7 linked regions of the Homo sapiens genome follow. The protein of the gene in region 7 purifies or fractionates together with the protein of the main gene of each other region. This does not show direct contact. Each region holds a gene or a part of one and is shown on either strand. Other genes may lie near its edges. The genes, in order: ARHGEF6, ABI1, CYFIP2, CYFIP1, ARHGEF7, ASAP1 and NCK2.

Region 1 (3,500 bases), on a different chromosome or scaffold from region 7:
CAGCAATCAACTAAAGTATTCCGTAATCACAAAAATGTTTCCTATAGATGCAGTTTGCACATTTATTGCAAGCCATTGACTAACCACAGAATGGGCAGATGTGAAGATCTGTGTTGATGTTGTTGGTGGTGGTGGTAGTACTGATGTTTTTAATTTTTAAGTGAAGGATGTTATATCTAAATGGCTGTGCTAAAAAACAGAACAACAGCCATTCCTAGAAATTTCTTTACTCTTCAGCTTCCAAACACGGCTGTGTGTGGTTGGCTGATGTTGGACTGCAAAAATAGTCCATTTCCTGTGGATGGTGTAATTTCTGCTGTGCAGCAAGCAGACAACAGCCCTGTACCATGTAGCTATGGGACCTTGAGACTCTCAGTACCAAAAATAAAAAGGGCTCCTCAGCAAGCTGGGGGTTTCAAACTTCAAGTTTTGTTTTTTCAGAGACAGAGGTGTCTCTCTGTTACCTAGGTTGGAGTGCAGTGGTGTCATCACAGCTCACTGCAGCCTTGACCTCCTGGGCTCAAATGATCCTCCCACCTCAGCCTCCTGAGTAGCTGGGACCACAGGTGTGGGCCACCATGCCTGGCTTCAAGTTTGGTTTTTAAACAATATTTGCAAAACCCACATTTATAGGCATCCATCAAATATATTATAAAGGCAATTCTGATCAGCCCTTTGGCCTCAATTTCCAGTGACCTTCCCCATCTGGCCAAATTTCTCTTGTCTTTTGGGGAGGGAGGGGTGAGTGGCACTGAGCCTTAGGCCAACTTTCAATGGCGCTGAATTTGGATGTGTGCTGTTCTGTGACTGTCTTCTAAACCTGGTTTCTCACAGTTCTAGTTTCTGGGATAAAGTGGATGATGTGATTCAATGAGCAACTTGAGTTAATCAGTCCTGAATAATCCAGCACACAGCTACTAGAGGGGCCCTTTTGTTCTGGATGTACAAGTTGGACCAGAAGCATATTTCTGCAAATACTGCTTAGAGTCCCACCCAAAGAGGCCAATTAATATTACAACTTCTCACAGCATATATGAGAGAGTAATAAAGTGAATGAAAGCTGTCTAGTAGGGCACAATATCTTCTTAATGCAGATTGTTTTGAAGGATAAAACATCACAGTTTGAATATGCAACGTACATAAAGTAACTCCTCACAGTCTAACTACATTTTTTTAAAAAGTAAGCAAAGCACATACATACTAGTTTACACACCACTTGGTAAGGTTGGCTAAAAGTACTGGGGAAATAGAAAACTTACACACTAGGCAGAATGAGGGAAAGAAACCTATCATGCAATGGGAAAAGGCGGTCAACTCTGCTACTAAAAGGGAGGATTGTCCAGTAGAATTTGCTGATGGATTTGGTGTTGGTGTGGGTGACCAGAGCTTCTGCCCCCCTGAGTTACAATTTACATGACACAAAAGGAATAAGGGTACTACAGTTTTCTTGGTCTTATAGACAACATAGGGCAGTAATTTTAAAACCTGTGATTGAGGGGAGGCATGTGATGGTCTAAGGAAGGGCAGCTGGATCATTGGGCAGATGTGTTTGTCTTTCATCCTACTCAAGCCATAGTCTGGAAGATTTGCCTTCGGTAAATTAAGTACTAAGAGGCTTGCAGGTACAGGAAAGCCCTGGGGAAAAGTTGGGTTCACATTTAATAAGCCTTGGCCAGCTGCTTTGCAAGGGCAGCCAGCCCAAAGAATGTGACCTGAGGGCAATGGCTGTTGCAGAGGCACTGTGAACTGAAGGCAATCTGAAGACCTTTTAAGTAACTGGCCTGCATTCCCTTTCTCTTTCTTACTGAATGGAAAAGACTCTGAGGCCATCTCTACCACCACTTCCTGCTTTTTCACCTGTTGAAAAAAAAAATGAACAACCAACCAATAACCAAACAACAGCAAATGCCCAAGCGCGCACGTGCACGCACACACATATGCACACAGCGGGGAGAGAAAGAGAAGAGAGAGGGAGAGAGAGAGAGAGACTCAAACACAAAACAAAAGCCAAAGAAGTGAGCAAACTGAGTCAAATCATTCAGCGGGACATTTCAAGATGCCCTGAAGGCACACTCCACCCAGTGGCACAGTGATGGTTATGGAAGAATTGAGGTCTTGCTACTGGACTCGCCTCGAATACACTCATCTGTTTGCTTCAAAAGCCTCCGCACCAGCTTTTCTAGGTCCCTTCTTGATTTCAGTTCTTCTTCCAGGCATTGCTTCATTCTTTTATTTTCCTATGATGGGGAAAGATTTGTTGATTATCAAACAGAGGGGGGCCCTTCCAAGGGCTCCTCCTGCTCATCCTCGGGGCAGCTTTCATCACTGACTCTCTTTCTTTCCTCGACCTTCCCTCCCTCAGCATCTATGACAAAGCAGCCTGTCGATTCTCCTGCCTGTCTCTGGGAAACCTTTTGGATTCTTCTTCCCTGCCCTGATCCTCTTCTAATTTAACTTGCTTTTCACTTAGTGTCACTTCTGTTTCAACCCAAGTGTCTATTAAGGGGACTCCCAAATATCTCTGGTACTGACCTTGTCTCCTGAGAATCGGGTCCACAATCTCAACTGTCAGCCTGGTATTTCTTCTTCTTCTTCTTCTTCTTATTATTATTATTATTATTATTATTTTATTTAAGAGATGGGGTCTCACTCTATTGCCAGGCTGGAGTGCAGTGTAATCATGGCTCACTGCAGCCTCAAACTCCCGGGCTTAAGTGATCCTCTCACTTACCTGAGATTACCTGGCAGCAGCTTGGTATTTCCACCTAGATATGTCACAAGCACCTTAAACTCATCAGGTCCTAAAGTGAACTCAGTATCTCTCTCAACACCCCAAACTTCTCCTCCTCCTGTGATTACTGATCTCCATGAAGGGGCACCACCATATGCAACCAGACACCCTGGGAAGAAGCTTCATCTTTAATCCCTGGCTCTTTCTTAATCTCAAAATCATATTATCCTCGTCCATAGGTTCAAACTCTGCAGTATGCCATCCTTTACATTCGTTTCCTCCTCCCCAGCCTCATTACCCTGCCTCAGTTCAGGACTCTGACAGGTTTCACCCTGAGTTTTGTAAGAACCTCCTAAGTGGTCTTCTAGTCCCTGGTCTCTCTCCCCTCGCATCCATCCTTCACTCTGTCACCAGATACAGTCAGTCCTCACACACAAGGCACAGTGTGCATCACGGAGCACTAGGCCACATCGGCAGAAAAGCCCACAAACCATGATGAATGGTTCTCTTTACACTTACACACTCATGAATGACTAGTCTTTTCTTAAAGTCTGTTTATGGATGTCAGAGAACAGGAAAGTTGTAACTAACTTTGGGACTCTATTGTGAACTACTACATAGAAATACAAGCAAGCCTCGGAAATTTAAATTCAAGGCTTACATGATAAAATCAACAAAACCTACCTTGATGACACAAGGAAAACAAAAATCCCCCCTCGCTACCTTGCTCCTAGGCCTTCCCTGAAAGCATGAGCAGCGTGAGGCAAGA
Region 2 (3,500 bases), on a different chromosome or scaffold from region 7:
TTTTTTCTTCTTTCACACCAAGTCTGTGAACCCAGCATATCAGTTCTTATGAAAGTCCATATCACATATATCAGTTCTTGCTAATACTCTCAAGGTGAGAATACTGCATATTTTTAGGACTATATAATATTTGCAAATTTGTATTAAAACTAATGTCTTCTCTTTTTTCTTTTGTGGCTTTAATACTAATAACAGCTTTATATGTAGTACTTCTGACTAGTCCTGGTCTGTTTAGAACCTCAATTTTAGCATGCTTCTGTCTTTTGGAGAGTTTTCTTAGAAAATTATTGAAATAATCTCTTAGGATACTTGCAAATTTTTCTTGTGTGCTTCTGCGTTCTCCAGTTGATTCTGATAGCTCAGGAATGCTAATAGTCCTTGTGGAAAGGAGATATTTAGGCAACTGGGGATCTGCTGTGTGACCATTTACAGTAACCTTATTTATATTCAGTGAAATTATGTCCTAAGAATTAAGACAGTTAACAGTCAAAAATATGTTAGCCAGAAAGGAAGAGTGTTCATATTGGGACAAGAGGTTGGATCAAACTCTAGGATATTGTGCAGATATAAATCTATAAAACCCATGAAAATAGTGTTGGCATGAAAAGTAAGGTAAAGGCTGGGCGTGGTGGCTCACACCTGTAATCCCAGCACTTTGGGAGGATGAGGCGGGCGGATCATGAGGTCAGAAGATCGAGACCATCCTGGCTAACATGGTGAAACCCCGTCTCTACTAAAAATACAGAAACAAAGTTAGCTGGGTGTGGTGGCGGGCATCTGTAGTCCCAGCTACCTGGGAGGCTGAGGCGGCTGAATGGCGTGAACCCGGAGGCGGAGCTTGCAGTGAGCTGAGATTGTGCCACTGAACTCCAGCCTGGCAGCCTGGGTGACAGAGCGAGACTCCGTCTCAAAAAAAAAAAAAAAAAAAAGTAAGGTAAAATTGATAGTTAATGCTAATTTTGAAGCATTTACAAAGTTTTGATTGGGAGGTTGTATATTTTTCCTAATATCATCTTGTGTTGATTGTAATATTTATTGAAATTATGGTTTGATTGTAGAAGAAATAATAGTCAAACCCCAGAACTACAAACTTTGTAGATCTTAATATTTACTAAGACATCATGTTAGAAAAAAGGGATTTTTTTTAAAAAAAAAAAAGGGCATTGTTGAGAAATAAGACAATAGGAAAGTAGCAATTACTGGATTTTTTTTTTTTTTTTTTTTGAGATGGAGTCTCGCTCTGTCACCCAGGCCGGAGTGCAGTGGTGTGATCTCGGCTCACTGCAAGCTCCGCCTCCCGGGTTCACGCCATCGATTTTGTTTTTAAAGGAAATAGTTGACGTGGTCATTTTAACAGTAAATATCCATCCCTTAGAATGGAGACTTGAGATTTGACTACTGTGTGTCAATCCAAATAAGTACTTTTAACTTTGGATCTACTAATTTTCTCCATCTACAAAATAAAACTTTCTCAGACATAGTTGGTAGTGAACCCGTGTTTATGAAGAAAATCTGTTAATGAGGGACCACACCCAGCTAATTTTTTGTAATTTTTGTAGAGATGGGATTTTGCCGTGTTGCCCAGGTTTGTCCTGAACTCCTGGACTCAAGTGATCCTCCTGCCTTGGCCTCCCGAAGTGTTGGGATTACAGGCGTGAGCCACCATGCCCGACCAGCAAAAACACATTTTTGAAAAACTTCAATTTACCTTTAATTCACTCATTTCCTGAATGCTTTATCATTAATTTTTATTAATAATTTCTACATTCTTTGACAAAATTGTATTTGGTACATTTTATTTTTCCTTCTATGGAAAGGCAAGTGTGGCACTTTTTCAGAACCCATGGGAAATTAATGCCCTCCACTTAAACATCAGAAATGTATATATTATATCATATAGAAAAAGATGTTTCCTACTACGTCAAATATTAGCAACTTAAGAGTTGTAACAACAGATGCTTATTTTATTTTATTTTTTTGAGACAGAGTTTCGTTCTTGTTGCCCAGGCTAGAGTATAATGGCACAATCTCTGCTCACCTCAACTTCTGCCTCCTGGGTTCAATCAATTCTCCTGCCTCGGCATCCTGAGTAGCTGGGATTACAGGGATGCGCCACCACGCCTGGCTAATTTTGTATTTTTAGTAGAGACAGGGTTTCTCCATGTTGGTCAGGCTGGTCTCGAACTCCCAACCTCAGGTGATCCACCCATCTCGGCCTCCCAAAATGTTGGGATTACAGGCGTGAGCCACCGTGCTCGGCCCAGATTCTTATTTTAATAAGGCAATATAGAGAAAAGAGTACATGGGTGCCATTTTATTTTTAATTTTTATGAGGGTTGGGGTCTCCTATGTTCCCCAGCTGTCCTCGTAATTCTGGGGTCAAGCGATCCTCCCATCTCAGCCTCCTGAGTAGCTGGGTCTACAGACTTTCCCCCCAAGCCCCTCCCACCATGCTCAGCTCATGGGTGTCATTTTAAAATTGATTATTACTCAAAAGTGCGCCCTCAACATAGTTAGGCAATCCCACTAGATAACCTCGCCAGTTTGTTCTTCCACTTACCACAAACTATTTTAATTTTTTTCTCCCTTTTTGAAATCTGACCCTTTCCTTTCTTGTCTTTTGGTTCATAGAGAAAATAGACTTCATCATATAAGACCTATAATTTCTTACCACTGCATCTCCAAACCTGCTATCCTCGCTCACCCTATTCTACTCCTTTTTATAATGGAAGAGAGACATTCTTCCTCCTAGCTAAAGTCCTAACTGTGGGTCATATCCTGTCCTGCCTTTTTGTAAACCTTATGCTCCTGATAAGTTTATACCTCCTCTCTTTACTGAATTTGTGCTTTCACAATTGAAACATTTCAGATCTCTGTCGTACTTGAAAACTCTTTTGACTTCATATACTCATCTAGTAACTGACCTATCTCTCCTTTATGGATTAACTAGTTTTATTACACTATTGTCAGCTAGCTGCAGTGGCTCAAGTCTGTAATCCCAGTTACTTGGGAGGTTGAGGTGGGAGGATTGCTTGAGCCCAGGAGTTTGAGATCAGCTTGGGTAACAAAGCAAGACCCTGTCTCAAAAAAAAAAAAAAAAAAAAAAAAAATTAGCTTAGTCTGTAGTCCCAGCTACTTGGCAGACTGAGGTGGGAGGATCACTTGAGCCCAGGAGTTTGAGGCTGCAGTGAGCTATGGTTGCGCCACTGCACTCCAGCCTGGGCAACAGTGAAACCCTGTCTTTTAAAATAAAAACAAAAAACCAAGCATTTTCCTCCATCTCCCACTTTTCATTCACTCTTTAACCTGTTCTATTTCCACTGCTCTCTGAATGCTAATAACCTCCATGTTGCAAAATTCTTTCCCATTTTAGTTCTCATGTGCTTTTTTTCTCTGCATCATTTTGCATGGTTGGTTTTTCCTACTTTTTTTGAGAAGTTAATCCTTTGGCTTCTCTGATAGACCTTTCTTTCATGCTTTTCCTATTACTCTCTGGCCCA
Region 3 (3,500 bases), on a different chromosome or scaffold from region 7:
CATGCCTATAATACCAGCACTTTGGGAGGCTGAGGCAGGCAGATCACTTGAGGTCAGGAGTTTGAGCCCAGCCTGGCCAACATGGCGAAACCCCGTCTCTACTAAAAATACCAAAAAATAATAATAATAATAAATTAAAAAAATAAATAATTAGCCGGGCACAGTGGTGCATGTCTGTAATCCCAGCTACTCGGGAGGCTGAAGCAGAAGGATTCTTTGAACCTGGGTGGCAGAGGTTGCGGTGAGCTGAGATCACACGACTGCACTCCAGCCTGAACCTGGGAAGCGGAGGTTGCGGTGAGCTGAGATAGTGCCACTGCACTCCAACCTGGGCAACAGAGCAAGACTCCGTCTCAAAAAAAAAAAAAAAAGTGTGTTCATTATACAAACACAGTGTCAAGACAGGCCCCCGAGTGCCCACTTTCAACTGGATTGTGGCTCCTTGACTCCTCGCGTGTGATAATTGCCAGATCCCATACAGTTTAGAGACCTTGAAGGCCCTTCCCGGGCTACTCTCTAATGGAGAAGTTTGTACTGTTTGTTACAATCACTCTTGTCAATGCCAGCAGACATATGAAGACTCATGTTCCTGAGATACTACTCTTCCTCTGCTCTGGACATACATCTTACTAAAAGGAGAGGAAGTGTGAAGAACACAGGACTGGGATGCAGCTCGAGAGCCTCCCCTGCTGGCAGCAGCAAGTACTAATTAGCGCTTGGTTGCGGCTGAGTAGCAAAAGTCTAGCATCCGTGTGTCTGTATGTACGTATTCTTGTTTTTGATCCCGCTCTACTAAGGACTTTATGACAAATTAGCCACAAGTATCTCCTGGACAAATTTAGCTAAGTCAGAACAGCTGAGTTGAACCTGGCCTTTCCTAGCTCCAAAAGCCCACTGGAAAGTGTATGTGTTTTTTCCTTGGTGGTGATATGTGCCCCTTAGGGTCAACGGTCACGTCCCTTTGCAATGCCTGGCTTGGTGGTCTTAGCGGCTCTGAGAGCCCTCATCCCCTCCTCCCATGCCTTAGCAGGGATGGGATGCAGCTCACCACTGATGTTGAGCAGATGTGTGAAGAAGAAGGACTGTTTGTGAAAGTCCTCTATGGCGAGGACAATGGGTCCATCCAGGCTGCTCCTCAGGGTCTTCTTGGAGCCGCTTTTGTCTGCAATGAGTGATTCAAGCATGGTCCGCACCATGTACAGCTTGAAAAAGAAAGCAAGATGAGAAGGTCAGAAGCTGGCCCTCTACCCCGGGGAAAAAGGTTGCTTCATGTTGTATTTATGTATTTTTTTTTTTCTGCAGATGTCTGCTCTTAAAAAGCACTGTCCTAAGGAAGCACCAGTTTAAGGTTTGAGAAATAAATGTGGAACTGTGAAAACCTTCATGGCCAACCCGGGCCCCGTGGCATCCCTGGGCCAGTGGACCTGGCCACACCAGGTAGCTCCCTGCTCTGCTTGGCCAAGGGCGTGTATATCAGAGGAGAACCTCATTACGTGTCACCCTGGAGTCACTCCCTGCTTTCCCAGAGGGCCACAGATGCCATGGGTGGAGCACTGGACTGGGAGTCAAAAGACCGGGGTTCAAGGCCAGGCACTGCTGCTGATTTGCTGTGTGACCTTAGGCAACAAAGCCCCCACTCTGGGCCTCAGTTGTCTCATGTAACATGAGGGGGTTGGACCAGATGCCTTCTCACACCAGTCCCTTTCAGCACTAACATTCTGAGGAACTGAGAAATGGGATAAGATCAGAACGAACCCCCTCCCACACCTGTTCCTGACCCTCAGCGTTTTGACCCCATGGCTGAGCGATGGCGCCCCCTTGGTGGCATCAGCTGCACTGCACAGCCTGCTGAAGTTCAGGGTGGAAGGCGGGTTAACATTGGTACTTACACAGGAGGCTACTAGACAATTAACTCCCGCTTACAGGGTGCCTTAAGTGCAAAGGATGCAAGTGCGGTGGGGTGGTTCTCTTTGCTAATCTAGATCTCTCCACATCATTTGTCTGTGAATCTTAGGGCTGGAAGGGGCCTTGAGGAGCCAGGCTAGTCCATTCCTGCTGCCTCCTCGAGAAGGGTACCCAAACCAACCCAGCCAGGCGGTGTGATACCAGGGATCGGCAGCCTCTTCGGCCCTGTGTGCCACCAGTGGGGTGAAACAAAGCCCTCGGGGACCACTGGCAGGCCTAAGACATAGATAGGAGAGAAGGAAGAGGGAATGGGAGGGCAGGAGAGACAGGGAAGAGGGAGAGAGAGAAAGAGAGAGAGAGAGAGAAAAGCAAGAGGTATTGTATACGGTGGGAAAGCCGCCGCGACTGCCGGGGGCCACCTCTGAGACACTCCAACCTCCCAGCAACCGCGTTCGTCTTCGCTGCCTCTGGAGCTTCCCTGGGATCTCCCCCATCACATGCCTGGCACTGATGCGGGTAGAGCAGCCACAGAAACGTGTGACCCACCATCCCTGCCACAGGGCTTCCTTTGTGGGAAAGCAGCCACAGTGGCCGTCAGTGCCTCAGACAGTCCCCCATCTGCAGCCCTGTTGGAGGGCCTGTCTCACCATCCCTAGGAGCCGAGAAGCACTCTTCTCATGACGGCCTCTCAAGTCCTCAAAGGAAGAATCCAAGTCTAATCTGTTGTGGGTGCTGTCCAGTTGATATCCAACTCTAATTCTCTGAAAACTGGTTTCACCCATAAGAAGGTGAACTTTTTTCCCACGTACTTTTACTTAACAGAGCATTTAATTCACCAAAACAGTCTCTATCCCAACTATGCAAGATGCCCATGTCTACTGTGTCCTGAAGACCGTACCAGAGCCCTGGGTGGGTGTCAGGAGACCTGGGTTCTTGTCCCACCTCCACCTGGGACTCACCTTGTGACTTGGACAAGTCACTTCCCCTCTCTAGACCTCAGTTTCCCCATCCGCAAGAGAGGGGGAGGGCCTAGGTTTCTCTAATAGCGCTCCCAGCTCTGGTTGTCTACGAGTCTATTCAACATGTCTGTGCCACCTAGCATGACCTGGTAGAGGTTGGGGGTGAGGCGGGATTTACTGCTGGTGACCCACCCCTCTCACATTATCTACACAAATACTCCTTCCTCTCCTCTCCTTTTCTCTCTGCCTGTTAAGTCCCCTCCTCCTCCTTTCCAGTGTCTTTTGTGCCTTGTCTGTCTCTTGCTCACTCATGTCTTAAAATTTACAGAAACACTTGAAAGCCCTGCTCAGTGTCTCCCGGACCTCAACCCTTGATATTACACAGAACTGTTTGCAGACGCTTCCTTGGGGCGTTCTACAACCAGCCGGTGAGATTGGTGCAAACTAGCAGAGGGCTGTGAAGCCAAGGGGAGTTAAGATGACCCTGCCGAGAACCCACCTCTCCCCTGCCCCAGCCCCCAGCACAGACACAGACGCACACACAGGGAGAAGGGTCGGGGGTGGGCCTCAGATGGTCCATCTTGGGTGACTGAGAACAGAGAGAGGCTTAAAGGTCATGGGAAGTGAGGCCTGTGA
Region 4 (3,500 bases), on a different chromosome or scaffold from region 7:
TGGGTCATTGAAGGGCTCATGCCCCGTCTCCCAGTCACACACGGTCTTCCTGATGGCCTGCAGGACACTGAACACCCCACCAAGTGATCAGCAAGGCCCAGAGGCCGAGACCTCCAGCCTCACAATCACACCATCTCCTCACCCAACTACAAGGCTCTCAGAACAGCCCCCATGAAAATACAAATTACTCTGGGGGCCATGGAGGGATGTGGTAATGGACCAGCTCAACAGGAAAGTTAAAAAGGAGTCTGCCTTCTGGAGAGTATTACTACCCCCAGAAGACTGCCCTGAGCTCCAGTTCGCATCTGTTAGCCCAGGGCAGCAGTGAGGTGGCTCTGAGTCATGCTGTGGGCAGGGAGAGGGCAGAACACAGCCTCCGCACGGAGCAGAGCTGGGCCCCGCCTGCCCGCAGCTGGCTGTCCCCAGTAACCAACAGGAATGTGAAGTCACCCACATGACCAGAGCCTGGCCATGTCTCTCGACTGGTTTGGAACACAGCCTCATCACCAACAGGGCTCCACCGTGCAGAGACCCCCATAAGGCACCATGCATGAACCACAGGCACCGCGAGCCTGGGATAAATGCACCTTGTCCCGGGGTCCTCAGACTCCCTAGACACTCGGCAGCTGACTTACTGTCCATTGTTTGGGTTAATAATTGGACCCATGCATTACTTTTAGAGGTAATTCACCAAGAGGGCATCTGAAGGTTGAAGATAAATATATTGAAATCATTTTTGAGAATTTAACGCTCCTGTTGTTTGAATCCAAGTTCATCCGAGGACGTGTGGGCACAGCGGGCACAGGGCGTGGGGAAGGCTGACCTCTGGATGACGTTCTTCTTCTTCTTGATGGCCTGCCGCAGCGGCTCCCTAAGGGTCACCTGGGAGAAGTCCTGCAGTGCGGCATAGACGGTGTGCCGGATGGCGTGGTTGAACACGCTCTCCATCCTGCCCATCAGCACCTGCAGGCCTTTGATCATGGCGATCACCTGCGGGGGACACAGCAACAGGGACGGCCCTTCTTAGGGATGGCACCAAGCCTCCTCTGCCTGGCACATGCCGGGGGCTGCTCCTCCTCGCCCACAGCACCTTACGCCCTCCCGCGTTCGTGCCCTGCAGCTGCCCTGCCCCAAAACGTCTTCTCCAAAGCCATAGTCAATGGAACTGTGCCCGCATCTGACTCCCCATCAGACCATGAGCACCTGGAGGACAGGGATGCATCTGACTCGAAACACACATGCATCCACCCCAGCACACCCTCCTGTGATGGAATTCAAATAGGAAAGAAGAAAAAGACTCAGGAAAGCAGGCATGATATTACTAGAAAAAGAAGTTACAAGAGGTTGTAGTCCAAATCCCATATTGTTCACAACAAAGGCGCAGTGAACTACCATTCACAGAAAAAGCCTGGAAGACTCTGATGGAACATAATTACATGACAAAGAGCTTCCAAAGGAATTCCTGGGACAGAAAAATGGTGCCAGGGCTCATTATTTCCCTGTTTCCAGACAGTAATTTTGTCATGACAGTGTGCTTTATTACTTTCTGAATAAACAATTGAAGGTCACAAACCAAGTATGACCTTTACAATTGCATGAGCTTTCTTACGGCTTTTGCCGTTTATAAATATTTCTACAGCCAACTTCATGATAGCTATGTGAGGCCTAGAAATCTCTCTGAAAGCAGCAAGTGAGGCAGAGCAAGACACACTTACCCCAAGTCCACCCTGCCGTGTGGATGTCTGACATATAAGACACCAAAGTGGAACATTTAATAGCACCAGTGAAACATAATTCACTTCTTTTTATCTTTTAACTAGAACGCTGTACCTAAGACTAATACATTTGGGAAAATCTTAACAACCCTTCTTTGGCCAGGCACAGTGGCTCACACCCATAATCCTGGCACTTTGGGAGGCTGAGGCGGGAGAATCACTTGAGACCAGAGTTCAAGATCAGCCCGAACAAAATGGCCAGACCCCATCTCTACAAAAAATTTAAAAATTAGCCAGGTGTGGTGGCATGAGCCTATAGTCCCAGCTACTCGGGAGGCTAAGCCAGGAGGATCACTTGAGCCTAGGAGTTCGAGGCTGCAGTGAGCCATGACTATGCCACTGCTCTCCAGCCTGGGTGACAGAGCGAGACCCTGTCTCAAAACAAAACAAAACAAAAACCCTACTTCAACATCTGAAAATGGTCTTCAGTCCACAGTAATAAAAAAAAACAAAAAACAAACAAACAAAAAAAACCTTTTGAAATTAAGTATTTGACAGATTCAAAATTAAGGCAGCTTTTTTTTTTTTTTTTTTTTTTTGAGACAGGGTCTCACTCTGTTGCCCAGACTGGAGTGCAGTGGCATGATCATAGCTCACTGCAGCCTTGAACTCCCAGGGTCAATCGATCCTCCTGCCTCAGCCTCCTGGGTAACTAGTTCTATAAGCATGCACTACCATGCTTGGCTAGGCATCTTCCTACTTTTATTAAATCTGTTGGTTTGAAGTTCACTTAGCAAGAACACAAATGTGTTTCCCCAAGGCTTCACACAGTCTCCCTCTATCACTTTCTGGTTTTATTCACACCTTTTGAGTTCCTCATTATGGCTTTATAAACAGCCTGATTCATGGGTAAATGAAGACGTGTCTGACAAGTACTTGAAACATGGCTTATATGATTTTGGTGCTTTTCTTTTTCATGAAATTTTCAGGTGGAAAAGTTGACAGTCTGCTTTTAATTCATCCTTCTATAACGTAAAGAATTTCCAAATAGACTGCTTTCATGTAAGACTCATGGTCTATATGCAATTAAAATAATGAAAATTTTAGAAAGGAAAAAGTCTGGAAGAAAACGCACCCAGCTGCTCAGCGCCATCTCTGTGATGGCGCCGCAGGCACTGTGCCTTCCTAATGCCATGCTTGTGTTTTCAGCATGCTTACTTTGGAAAACTGATGATTTTATATTGTTTTTCCAATCAACAAAAAAGAAAAGTTCTATTTAAAAAACCAAACGAGGAAAAACCCATTTAAGTGAACATAACAATCCTACATATTCACACTTACAGGAAGAAGGAAAAGGCAAGTTAACAGCAAACTGAGAGCTTTAGATGCACGCATTAGAAAACTAAAAAGGATAAAAATCATAATACTTATCAAACATTCATCACTAATTTATAGAAAACAGCAAAATAAACCCCCCCAAAATCGAAGAAAAATAACTAAAAGCACCCGGGCGCAGTGGCTCATGCCTGTAATCCCAGTATTTTGGGAGGCCGAGGCAGGCGGATCACAAGGTCAGGAGTTCGAGACCAGCCTGGCCAATATGGTGAAACCCCGTCTCTACTAAAAATACAAAAATTAGCCTGGTGTGGTGGTGCACACCTGTAGTCCCAGCTACTTGGGAGGCTAAGGCAGGAGAACTGCTTGAAACTGGGAGGTGGAGGTTGCAGTGAGCTGAGATGGCGTCACTACACTCCAGCCTAGGTGACACAGCGAGACTCTGTCTCA
Region 5 (3,500 bases), on a different chromosome or scaffold from region 7:
AGTAGCTCACAAATTATAAGATAGAGCTTCTATTAGACATTTTTCATCGCTTGAGATGCCTTTAAAATCTTCTGCTATGAGCTCCTAAGAGTGGGACAGAAACCCTGGTGCGTGCATGTGGGCAGCAGTACCTCACTTCCGGCACACTGAATCAGGACCTGGGACATGTAAGTGACGTTGCCCAGAGTTTTAATGTCATCGCCCTCCCAGTTCCGGATGGCTTCCGTCAGGATCTGCAGCTCAAGCTCTTTCCTCTTCCGGACTTCTTGACATTGGGCCTGACAGACACAGAACAACACTGTTAACAGACATAAACTTTCAGAATGTTAAGTTCCGGCCACATTGCTTTGTATCATCCTTAAGACAATTATTGCTTTATATCTTACTTCTTCAGACAGATAATTTATTGAGCGATTTGCTTAATTATAGGGAATTGAAAGTATTTGCTTAGAAGTATGAAACCAAGTTAAGAGAAGCAACACACACAACTGCTCTGGAATACTAAGTATTATTTTAGAAAGATAGAGCACATTTTGCCACTTGTACAAAAAAGAAATGTGGACAGGACAAGAACTGTATTTTCATTCTGGTTTTGTTCGTGTTTGCCAATATGGAAGACTGAAAAGAAGAAACAGAAAGTATAACTTGTGCTATAAAATAAGGCCATATATTTCCAAAACGCAGTTGGTAAGACAACACAACAGCAGAGAAAATGGAACCACCATTGTTCTGTTTTGCAATAAATCATTAAAGACAACATGAATGAAGGGTAAAAAAATGTTTTAAACAATTTTAAAGTAGATCTAACATCAATTACACAGTGACTTTAAAAAATTTAAATAATTATTCTATCATAGTCCACTAAAAGGAGTTTACCAGCCACAGAATGCCGACTCTGTTTTTCTTTCATGTCAGCACAAGTCATTTTTTAATCATTTGACTTTTTCAGTTGATAATTCTTTTACATTCATTTGTCACAATAATGTCTGGGGGGGAAAACAATATGCTTAATCACTTACTGAAAGGTTTTTGAAGGCAGCCATGGATTTTTGAATATCTTGTCTATCTGTATGATAATCCTTTGAGTAAAAGAAACATACAATTAGCTTTCATAAGGAAAAGCTTTTCTTAAAAAGGTACTTTCTACAGACCAGCTTGAAACTTTTCTAACACTTTTCAACCCTTAACATTCCCTTTTTCCCTCAGCATTAAAGTGTCAGTCTTTCAGCAAATCACGAAGCCATTAGACTTTGGGGAAATATAAGTTGGAAGAGAACAGTCACAAGCAGCAGGGGTGGGGAAGCCAACACTTGCTTCATCAATAAAGTCTTATTGGAACACTGCCACGGCTCACATACAGTATCTAAAATGGCAGAGCTGTGTAGCCGTGAAGAAGACCCTACAGTCTGCCCCCTTATAGAAAAGGTTTGCCAACTCAAGCCAAGAGAGTAACTTCAACCCAAATTTCTGCTAGGCTGCAACCTGTTATTCAAAATTAAAAGAGCACAATCATTCATCAAATGATTAGTACAGTATTACCCTATAACCTATGCACACATTGTTTGTAGCTGGATGATCCAGGTAAGACATCTCAACACTATCTGAAAATCAGTTCTCATGTTTCAGCTTTTGGAAACTTTTCAATCAGCAGCAGTGGGTAAAAGAGAGATAAGGGGTAAATGTTTTCTAATAGAGCTGGAATAAGGAGAAAAACATAATATTTAACAAAACTCTTTGTAAACTCTGTTGGTTCTGGCTTCTAAAATAAATCATGAATAATACTTTCTTTCACAGTAAGTCTGACCATGCCACTAACCCTTGGTAAGGACTCCAAGTAAGAGAATGAAAGCGCAGTACCTCCATGTGTCTCTCGAGCTCTTTGAGCAGCGTAGGGTATTTATCCAGGCGCATGAAGGGTTTGCTCAGGCCCGTGGTCAGCACGAGAATCCCAGGGCTGCTGGCACCTTTGGTCTCCATGAACTCCCCCAACTCCTCACTGGGCAGCAAGTGGCAAGAGAGACACTCGTGGTTAGCAATGAGAGACAATGGTGGCTCTCTCATCTCCATGAGCAACAGCCAGAATTTATGAAACATAAGTGTTGCTTTTAACATCTGGAAGGCTCCAGCTTTTATCCCAAATCTGCGCTGCTTATCTGGAAATGCCAAAGGGGACTCCCATCCCTAAGGGGTCCCGTTCCTGCTCTCATATGAGCAACAATAACTATACACAGCACAGGACATGTGGGTCTCCATGAGATCCTACTGATGGCGAGGTCCTCCAGCACATCAGTGCCATGCAGACATATCCAATGGAAACATGCACACTCAGAGCCAGAATGGATTCCAATAATCTCAGAGTCTCAAGGTGGTAGAACAAGGACCGAGCTGCTCCGGTAAAGAGCTAGAGCACACTGATGGTAGTCATCCCCAGATGCGAGTTCGTCCAGCGAGCAGGCCCCACCTATGTGCTGCCAGCACTCAGCCTGGGAGTAGGCAATGGCTCTTGGGGTGAGGAGCACGAGAAGCAGCAAGAGAAGAGAGCAAACGCTGATTTAGGCTTCAGAACTTCAAAAGCTTTAAGTTTAATCCTCACAATACGTGAGGAAGAAAGGGGTCCCTGTGTGCAGACAGCGAATGTTGATTTACGCTTTAGAACTTCAAAAGCATTGTTACATTCAATCCTCACAACACGTAAGGAAGGAAGGTGTCCCTGTGTATGGACATAGAAACAGTGCATATCCCAAAATTAAAGAGTCAGAAACAAGTTTTAGAACTTTCTGTATTCCTCTTCAACCATCCCCTTCACAGTGCCTCGCCTATCTTTCCCTACAGTGGGTCCTCATGTGTGTCATCTTTGTCCTCAGAGTTCCCATGGCTGTGGCAGAGGACACGGGCAGGCTTCTGTGGGGGGTCCAGCTCTTCACCCACACGTTTGTTAAGGCTGACAGTCACCTGACCGCAACACCCCTTCACTGGCGATCTCTGAGGTCTCTGTCAGGCCCTGGGTCTGCTGTCCCTCAAATTGCATGTGCCATCAGTCCACACATCTGACAGTGTACAGCCCACAGAAAGGAGGGGAGGCAGCACCAGCGCTGGCAGCCGATGCCAGGTCCAGACCAGGATGACTTCTCAGTCACCACATCCCATCCAGGAGACCCAGGTGACCCCCGCCCCATCACCACGCCCCATCCTAGAAGATAGGGGTCTCTAGTCAGCAGAGCTTGGTTCAAATGATACCCATGGCACAAATCCTAGGAACAAATTTTCCTAGTCTAGAGGTTTTCCCTTAAAAGGAAAAGATACTTTTATATCCTCATTATGTAAACGATGTCCTAAAATAAACATGAAAATCCTAACAGCAAAACTGAGAAACAAGCCAATTTCCGGTTCTGGTCTCACAGGAGCCTCCCACCGCACCACCCCAGCCAAGCTGGCTACTGCCAGAGGTCTCGGGGACACCAGAACCATCAAGGGCTCCCGGGGAAAAGACAGACAGTGTT
Region 6 (4,071 bases), on a different chromosome or scaffold from region 7:
GTGATTTACAAGCCACATGTCTCCTGTGTGTGAATGAATGCCTCTGAGCCTCATTTGTCAGCTCTGTAAAGCTGAGGGGCTCACGCTTCTCCTGGGCTTGCTAAGGATTCAGGGGTTAATGCAGGCAGAGTGCCTGGGCCAGGTCTGCTCCACTGCGTGGCAGCACTAGTTGTGACAGCTACGTGACAGAAGTGCTGTCCACACGACAACATGTAAGCCTCGTGCCCCTCCACCCTCTTCTTGCCCTGTTCACATCAACGGGCGCACAAGTGGACGTGGTGGAGGTGGAATGCGGAAGGTGGAGGACAGAAAGGGGCCGAAGGCCCACAGTTTGTAAGCCGGGGCAAGTGCCACATATTTTTATGTATCCAGAGTGATCTCTGACAAGGGTTGGAGTGACCTGTGTCATCTATATACCCGAAAGCACAGCCAGAGGAAGCCTTGATTCTCTCCTGTCAGCAGGGTAGTGAACAACTCACAAAATGGCCTGATTTCAGAAGTTTGGGATCAACTGAGAATATGTTTATTTAAAAGCAATTTTAAATATTAAAAAAAGTAGAAATTAACACATACAGTACTGAAAAACTGTCACATTAAACACATGTGAAATGACAAGTGTACTGATGTTTGATGGTAACATCCAGATGAGAATTCGGCATTTAACTAGTGGCACTACAGGATTCCTATACAACATGTTGAAGTTCTAGGCAATAAAAAAATAAATAGCAATTGCTGTTCAACAGTAAAATAAGACACACACTATTTGCAGAACATAACTTTCCCCTCTGGGGGAAAAAGAACTAATTTGCTATTTTTTTTTCATAAGGTTCCATATCTTCAAAATACTATATAATGTACAAAATTGCAGATAGTGGCTTACTGAGTTTAAGATCAAGATCAGACTTAAACTCAACAAGATCACCAAAGGTATTTCTACTGAGTTTTCCTATGTCCCACAGTAAGCTGGGTTAGAGAGAACTCAAATTCCTGATGGAAAACAAAACCGAACAAAAAAACTAGAAAAAAAAGGTGTTAAAAATGCTGTGTAAGTTGCTGCAAAAGGGGAAAAAGAATAGACACTAACTCCATGTAATTTTAGACATGCAGCTTTTGTGTTTTTTTTTTGTTTTTGTTTTTTTTTTTTTTTTGAAAAAAACCAGTTTATTTTGAGATCAGTGAAAAGAGTCTAGGCCACAGAAAAGAACAGCTCTTTAATGCAAGTTAAAATGTGTAAATGAATGACCGGGACACTGAGCAACCTCAGATGCAGACTTCCATCCGGACACTGGTGTGGCTTCAGTACCGAGGCTGCTAAAGCTGCCAGTCACAACCCAGCATGTCAACTGGTTCCTCATGCTCTGTTTGGTGTGGAAATTCACATGTGCCCTGACACTGAGGAAGCAATTGCTTAAAATCACTTTCCAATAACAGCTGATAAAATATTTTGCAGGTTTGTCATGCAAGGTTTATTTATTAGGTGGCTATTCAAAGTTTGTATAGCAACCACTTAAGCAGAACTAAATTAATATTCACTGAGCACTGTAACGATGGAAGAGGGCTTTTCCTAAGGGTTGGGTTGGGAGTTGTGCTTCTGTGAAATTAACATCTCTCACTCATTGCCAAGATTCTCTGCTTAAAAATATTAGTTTTCTGTGCTGTTGCCAAAATAGCAATTTAAGCAAATGTAGTGCCAGAATGACACATGAGCCTCGGACTCAGGGAACAGTTCCACTGACTGTGGAGTACAACTATTGCATTCTTTTCCAAAATTCAGACTGATGTAAAAGACTGAAATACAATGTTCTTAAGGATCTGATAAACATGGCTGGGATGAAAAGAAAACTGAGAGGGAAGAGTGCTTTTCACAGTGCAATTCATAGCAGCGTTCAAAAACTTGGTTATGAATTGACTTGAAGGTGGACAGAGCTTAAGACTGGAAAAATTATCTATAATTGGGGTTTAACAAAGAGCATGGGAAAAGAAACACTTGGTTTCAGCACCTGGATTCTACATACAGTAGGGAAACTGTGTGAAGGGTTGACTTTTAAATTCATCTTGAATAATCTTTTAAAAGTTTAAATTTGTCCAAGAACAAAACTAAGAAAATAATAAAAAATGGATGCAATGGATGCTTCAACACATCTGAGAGATGTGCATTCATAACACAATATGTCAATCCATACTCTTGAGAAAGCCAGTGATTAGAAACAAATATTGTTGCAACCTTATAATTTCTGCTTTAATGGCAATCAAGTTTAAAAAATGTACAATTCCACTTATCCATACTATTCCTTTATAAAAGGCAGATTTCAGGTAAGCTTCTAAATGCATGCGTAATGTAGAGGCTAATATTTTCTGGCAGTCCTTGGTTCCTGAAATTTGAACTTCATATGTGTTTTAAACTTTTGTCAAAATAGTCATGAAAGATATGTTATTTTTGCATAATGAGGTAATATATCAGGGGCGGGCACTCATAAGACAGTATAAATCCACTTGTCTAAACTTGCATGAGGCTGTGTGCATTGTAAAATGCCATAAAGAGTTTTGGGTCAGTGAATATTTTGCTGAAGGAATAACACTTACATTTAACTGAGCACTTTTCTGTAATAAATACCAAAGTAGGTTTTTGTAGCTGTAAACTGTGTACACAGATAACTACAGGCTGGTCTGTCATGGAGCTAAAAGTTTCACCTGGAAAACAGAACCCACCTCTTTGCTAATGTTGCATTTTCAGTAACACAATTGAGAATACTGCATTGTTAGGAACAGAGTCAATTCTATGCCTTTCAACGGTTGCTGGAGACCACTTCTATTTGCAAAGCCAGCAGTTCCTATACTCCTATTTTTGTTTGTTTGCTTGTAGAACAGCATAGAGAGATGTAAGTGCTAGATGCCAAGGATGGCTTTGGCAAACCAGTAAGGCGCGCCGGGTCCGAGGCTACCCTCATACTGGTGAAGGCAGAAAACCACAGGATATTTACAACACACATTATATCCCCCTCCTGAGGTGGCCCTTCCATGAGTTTCTTACTCTGTAACAGCAGCTATATACACACTGTGCCCAGGGTTACATGAAGGCAGCAGTCTTGCATGAAGGATGTGGACAATCTTAAGGTTCTGCGTTTTGCTAGTCAGACAGGATATGAACAAAGGACACTGGAAAGACCCCCTTCCTTTCAGGCTGTCCTTCGATGTGGCCAATCTGCAGGGAGAAAAGAGAGTGGTCAGGATGGAGGCAGCAGGCAGTGGCCCCACGACAAACCCAGTGGGTAAGAGCCCAGCCTAGTCTGCCCACAGACCTGGCGGTGGAATCCCAGGCTTACCCTTCTTCCCACCCTTTAGTGAACTACAGAGAGCTTAACGGTCATAAACTACATAAGGAAAGAGCAAACGACAGAACTTCCAATATGCTCAGCATTCTACATGGATCTTGCTGTACCCACACAGCAACCCCCTGAGGTGGATATTTCTTATACAGTTTACAATCTTCATTTTACAGATGAAGGGACAGTGGCCCAGAGAGGTGACATGCTCTCCCACAGGCGTGGGGCTCTAGAGTCCTTGCTCTGAACCAGGGCGCCTGGCTGCCTTTACAGCTGGGTGACCTCACACAAACCTTGCTAAGCCTTTTCTCTGTTAAGTGGGGCTAAAGAAAATCCCTTCTCTCCAGGCTTGTGTGATACATTTAAAAAAGAAAAAAAAAAAAAAAAGCAAATGAAAAGGCTGCTATGGCACCTGGCCAATCCCAGTACTATTACCTATTCCTAGTTGGGAAGGAAGGGGTTTCTTTGCCCACAGCCCAGGTAGGATGCATACAGACCATTAAGCTGTGTCAGCTGCCTGGCAAGACCCACTGCGGGGTACCATACTCAAATCAAAGCTAATCTTGTTCTGTCTCTTCTCTTTGTGAGTAAAGTGTTGTTCTAGCCAGTAAAAAAAAAAAAAAAAGGCTGCTATGTACTATCACTTGTTTTCTGGTTACCGTGGAGGAAGAATACTGTGAAAGTTTGAGACTGATGGTGGCGAATGGCAATTTTATTGTCTGCTGCATTGGCCTGTAAGCCAGTTACC
Region 7 (3,500 bases):
CGCGATAAGTGGGTACTTTTAGAAAAGAACAGTAGAGAGCACACTCTTTGATCCCATCTCTATGGCTTTGCCAGCTTGATCCATTGCCTCAAATACTTGCTGAAAAGCACCTTTGCAGTTTTATAAAACAGATGTCCTGATCAGATACGCCTCTCCCTCTCTCAAGATTTAATCATTGTTTTCTCATAGAAGGAAAAAAATGAATGCCGAGGACAGACTTTAATATCCTTTATTTCCTCCTCCATTCCTGAAAGCTTATGTATTAATGCGATTTTCTTCTAAGCACAATAGTCATGAGGAAACGGGAGGGAGGGGCCTTGCTCCAGGTACTTTTGGTTCTTTAAACCTTAAAACTTCTCCTTATCTTTCACTTTGGACTTTATGAAATGATGAGGGTAGAAATGCCCTTTGTGTGATTCACCAGGCCTTCCACACAGACCCTGGACTGATCTCCAGCCACGCTGAAGTCTCCAAGCATCAATAATCTACACATCTCCTTCTACCCCCAGAGAGAGGTCACCCTGTTGGTTTCTTATCACAAGTTGTATCATTCTTTTCTTTTGGTAAAGACATGTTTTTCCCCTTTTACTTCTTTACAGAAGGCACTCTTCTGTCCACAGAAGTGGTTCATTTACCTCCCAAAAGTGAGAACAAATGGGTTAGAGGCAAATCGTGATCCACTGATTAATAGTTTCTCTGTTTTTATCTCAGAAAAACTGCCTTTCAGTTTTACCATTCTATTTGGTCACCTGCCCTAGTTGTCTAAGGTAGCCTTCTTTTAATAAAAATTACTCCTGCCTATACTTATGCTGCTAGCTGTCAGTTGACCCTATGTTCTTTGTTTTTACATCAGATTATCTCTTCCTTGCCCCAAGTGTGAAGAGTCTCACCAGCTTTTCCTATTCTCCTATCAATGTTCACTCTATAAAATATTTACTCCACAGGCCTGAAGCCAATCCACACTGACATGTTCAAATATTCATCTCATTAACTTTGGAAGTAATCTTATTTACATAAATGAAAAGTCAATCATCAACTACAGAGCAGCTGTCCAAGTCCCATCTACCTAATCTAGGCAAACGGAGCGTTCCCTGTCCACTTTCCAGTTAGTATGCATGTGTGTGGTTAGCCCTCCCTATCCCCAAATGTATTTCCTAAAGTCACATGTAATACCTCACCATATAGACCTGTAGAATATTGTCCTTGTTATTCTTTGTCTTTCCATAGTGTCATACCTGATGTGACTGAGTGATACATTTAAGTCAGAATTTTACCATATTACACAACAGTATGCAAAAGGGCTTGAATCAAGTGCATACTCCACAACGTAGTGGTTCTCAAATTGGCGCATCAGAATTATTCAGGAGTTCATAGGTTCTCAGGATTTGGAACAAAAAAAGGACTCAGAGGGCTTCTTCAAACCAAGGTTGCAGAGCCCTACCCCAGAGATTCGAAGTCAGCAAGCTGGGGCAATCTGCATTCTAGCAAGTTTGCTGGTGATGCTGGATGTTGTCTGTTTTAAAGGTCAGCATTGAAGAGCCAGCCAGAGTGAGAAGGCAGAGTCTTCAAGGGCTCTGGCCCATTTGAGAATCAGAATCAGGTGATGAGCACTAAACTTCCAGATAACAGCCTGTACTGCATGATCTTGCAGGCCTTTCCATCTTCAAGAGTTAAATATGCTTAAAATTAGAACTATTACAAAAATCCAGGCTTAAAACTTCCATTTGGTACTGGGCAAAAAGCCTGGCAATTAAAAATAACTTGTTATCTTTGAAACTGGAAAGATGCCTACAGGCACTGCTCACAGCAACCTAAGGTTAAGTCATCTTAACATTAACTCATTTATGAAGAAACACCATGGATCACGGAGCCTAACCATGAAACCCTGGAAGCAGCTTTCACATTGCTCTGACAATCTACCTCCTCCTAATTCATCAGCAGAAACACAGCAAATACAGCACGTTTATTTTCAAACTCTAAACAGTAAAAAACAAACAAACAAAAACACAAAAAAGCCCCCCAAAAAACTCAACAGAAATATACTTCAAGAGATAAATCCCACTCAACAAAAGCTTCAGTTCTAAATGAAGTTCAGCTTTATGACAATATTTTTATAATTCATGGAAATGTAGTATTATGCAGAAATGGTTTTAATAACAGCTGCAAGAATATATAAAACCACTAAGAATGCATCATAGGGATCAAGGGTTTTCAAAGTGTGGTCCCAAAAGCAGCAGCATCACCACCAAGAAACGTGCTATTAATAGAAATGCAAATTCTTGGGCCCCAGACCTCCTGAATCAGTACCATTTCAGGTAGGACCCAGCAATTTGTTTTAACAAGCTTCAAGGCAATTCTGATACACACTACATACAGTTAGAGAATCATTATTTAGAGAAATGGAATGATGAAATTGCCTGAAAATAGAGTTTTGGGTAAAAGTTATAATTTCTTTAAGAAATATTATAACTTTAAAAATACAGAAAGGAGCTATTCTATTTTATTTCCCAGCCAAATACTTTTCATATATTTTAAAAAAGAGAAATGAAACAAATATGTGCATTAAATTATCCTTAGCGAGACAGTTTTTCTCTACTGGAAAAAAAAGTACTGTATGACAAAAAATATTAGTATCTAATACTATTGCAGGACATAATAAATACATGATATCTTCGGGAACTAAAATCTTACAGAGGAAAATGGCCTCCCGCACTTGCAGGCCAGCTCTGCACCTTTTCCAACCATATCCTAGTTGTGATCTGTCATTTTCTGAACAAGCTTTACAAGGATGGGAGATGCAGCAATTAAGAAAATAAAATATTGACAACTTGTACAGTTTACCAGAAACCCAGTAAAGGGTTACTGTTCATTTTAAGTACAGCTTTCTAGCCACATCCATAGAATCAATGTGGACAAAATGTAATATAAAAGGATTTATAATGGACACACACAGGGTGAGTAGGATTTCTGAGTTTTCTGGATTTAAGCAGGTATGGCTCACAGGTGAAGGTATGATAACGAAATATGGAGAATAAGCAACAACAATGCATCACCTTTAGCTGCTAAGGATAAATGACAATTGTAGATGAGAGAGGAGAGCGAGGGAGGAGGAAGAAATGGAAGGACAAGCAGTAGGTACTGAAGTTCAGGACAGGAAAGAGGGTCCAAGAGGTTCGTTCGTTTGTTGGTTCACTGATTCATCTAACATATCCAACAGATACTTCTGAAATACCCAGCACTTACTGATAGTGGATAGTGTAGCATGTGGCAATGTTTGTCTTCCCTGAAATACGCACCCCTCAATATCGTCAAGCAAGGGTCTAGCTCATTTACACTGCAATCACTCAGGATATTTTATTGAAGATCCATTCCAAAAAAAACAGCTGTGCTTATCCAGAAGCCAGGCCTCATGTGATAACCTCAATTAAAGGCCCAGGCCCAAAGACTGCAAGAAAAAAAGGAAATTAAATAAAGATGCCTGACTGAGTCCTGCAGGGAGG

Evidence for each region.
Region 1: the proteins of NCK2 (region 7) and ARHGEF6 purify together in Homo sapiens (affinity purification with mass spectrometry; 4 studies listed by BioGRID and IntAct, with this or other methods). This does not show direct contact.
Region 2: the proteins of NCK2 (region 7) and ABI1 purify together in Homo sapiens (affinity purification with mass spectrometry; 5 studies listed by BioGRID and IntAct, with this or other methods). This does not show direct contact.
Region 3: the proteins of NCK2 (region 7) and CYFIP2 purify together in Homo sapiens (affinity purification with mass spectrometry; 4 studies listed by BioGRID and IntAct, with this or other methods). This does not show direct contact.
Region 4: the proteins of NCK2 (region 7) and CYFIP1 purify together in Homo sapiens (affinity purification with mass spectrometry; 4 studies listed by BioGRID and IntAct, with this or other methods). This does not show direct contact.
Region 5: the proteins of NCK2 (region 7) and ARHGEF7 purify together in Homo sapiens (affinity purification with mass spectrometry; 5 studies listed by BioGRID and IntAct, with this or other methods). This does not show direct contact.
Region 6: the proteins of NCK2 (region 7) and ASAP1 purify together in Homo sapiens (affinity purification with mass spectrometry; 4 studies listed by BioGRID and IntAct, with this or other methods). This does not show direct contact.

The regions. Positions count from the first base shown.
Region 1 is NC_000023.11:136,665,933-136,669,432, forward strand, and holds part of ARHGEF6 (rho guanine nucleotide exchange factor 6), read right to left. Parts: intron 2,238-3,500; coding exon 2,097-2,237; 3' UTR 1-2,096. UniProt on the Homo sapiens protein: Acts as a RAC1 guanine nucleotide exchange factor (GEF).
Region 2 is NC_000010.11:26,850,959-26,854,458, reverse strand, and holds part of ABI1 (abl interactor 1), read left to right. Parts: intron 1-3,500. UniProt on the Homo sapiens protein: May act in negative regulation of cell growth and transformation by interacting with nonreceptor tyrosine kinases ABL1 and/or ABL2. May play a role in regulation of EGF-induced Erk pathway activation. Involved in cytoskeletal reorganization and EGFR signaling.
Region 3 is NC_000005.10:157,321,623-157,325,122, reverse strand, and holds part of CYFIP2 (cytoplasmic FMR1-interacting protein 2), read right to left. Parts: intron 2,182-3,500; coding exon of another isoform or gene 2,107-2,181; intron 1,203-2,106; coding exon 1,049-1,202; intron 1-1,048. UniProt on the Homo sapiens protein: Involved in T-cell adhesion and p53/TP53-dependent induction of apoptosis. Does not bind RNA. As component of the WAVE1 complex, required for BDNF-NTRK2 endocytic trafficking and signaling from early endosomes.
Region 4 is NC_000015.10:22,917,869-22,921,368, forward strand, and holds part of CYFIP1 (cytoplasmic FMR1-interacting protein 1), read right to left. Parts: intron 991-3,500; coding exon 824-990; intron 68-823; coding exon 1-67. UniProt on the Homo sapiens protein: Component of the CYFIP1-EIF4E-FMR1 complex which binds to the mRNA cap and mediates translational repression. In the CYFIP1-EIF4E-FMR1 complex this subunit is an adapter between EIF4E and FMR1.
Region 5 is NC_000013.11:111,272,310-111,275,809, reverse strand, and holds part of ARHGEF7 (rho guanine nucleotide exchange factor 7), read right to left. Parts: intron 1,997-3,500; coding exon 1,858-1,996; intron 1,080-1,857; coding exon 1,020-1,079; intron 279-1,019; coding exon 132-278; intron 1-131. UniProt on the Homo sapiens protein: Acts as a RAC1 guanine nucleotide exchange factor (GEF) and can induce membrane ruffling. Functions in cell migration, attachment and cell spreading. Promotes targeting of RAC1 to focal adhesions. May function as a positive regulator of apoptosis.
Region 6 is NC_000008.11:130,051,604-130,055,674, forward strand, and holds the end of ASAP1 (arf-GAP with SH3 domain, ANK repeat and PH domain-containing protein 1), read right to left. Parts: intron 3,203-4,071; coding exon 3,128-3,202; 3' UTR 501-3,127; downstream 1-500. UniProt on the Homo sapiens protein: Possesses phosphatidylinositol 4,5-bisphosphate-dependent GTPase-activating protein activity for ARF1 (ADP ribosylation factor 1) and ARF5 and a lesser activity towards ARF6.
Region 7 is NC_000002.12:105,884,412-105,887,911, reverse strand, and holds part of NCK2 (cytoplasmic protein NCK2), read right to left. Parts: intron 1-3,500. UniProt on the Homo sapiens protein: Adapter protein which associates with tyrosine-phosphorylated growth factor receptors or their cellular substrates. Maintains low levels of EIF2S1 phosphorylation by promoting its dephosphorylation by PP1.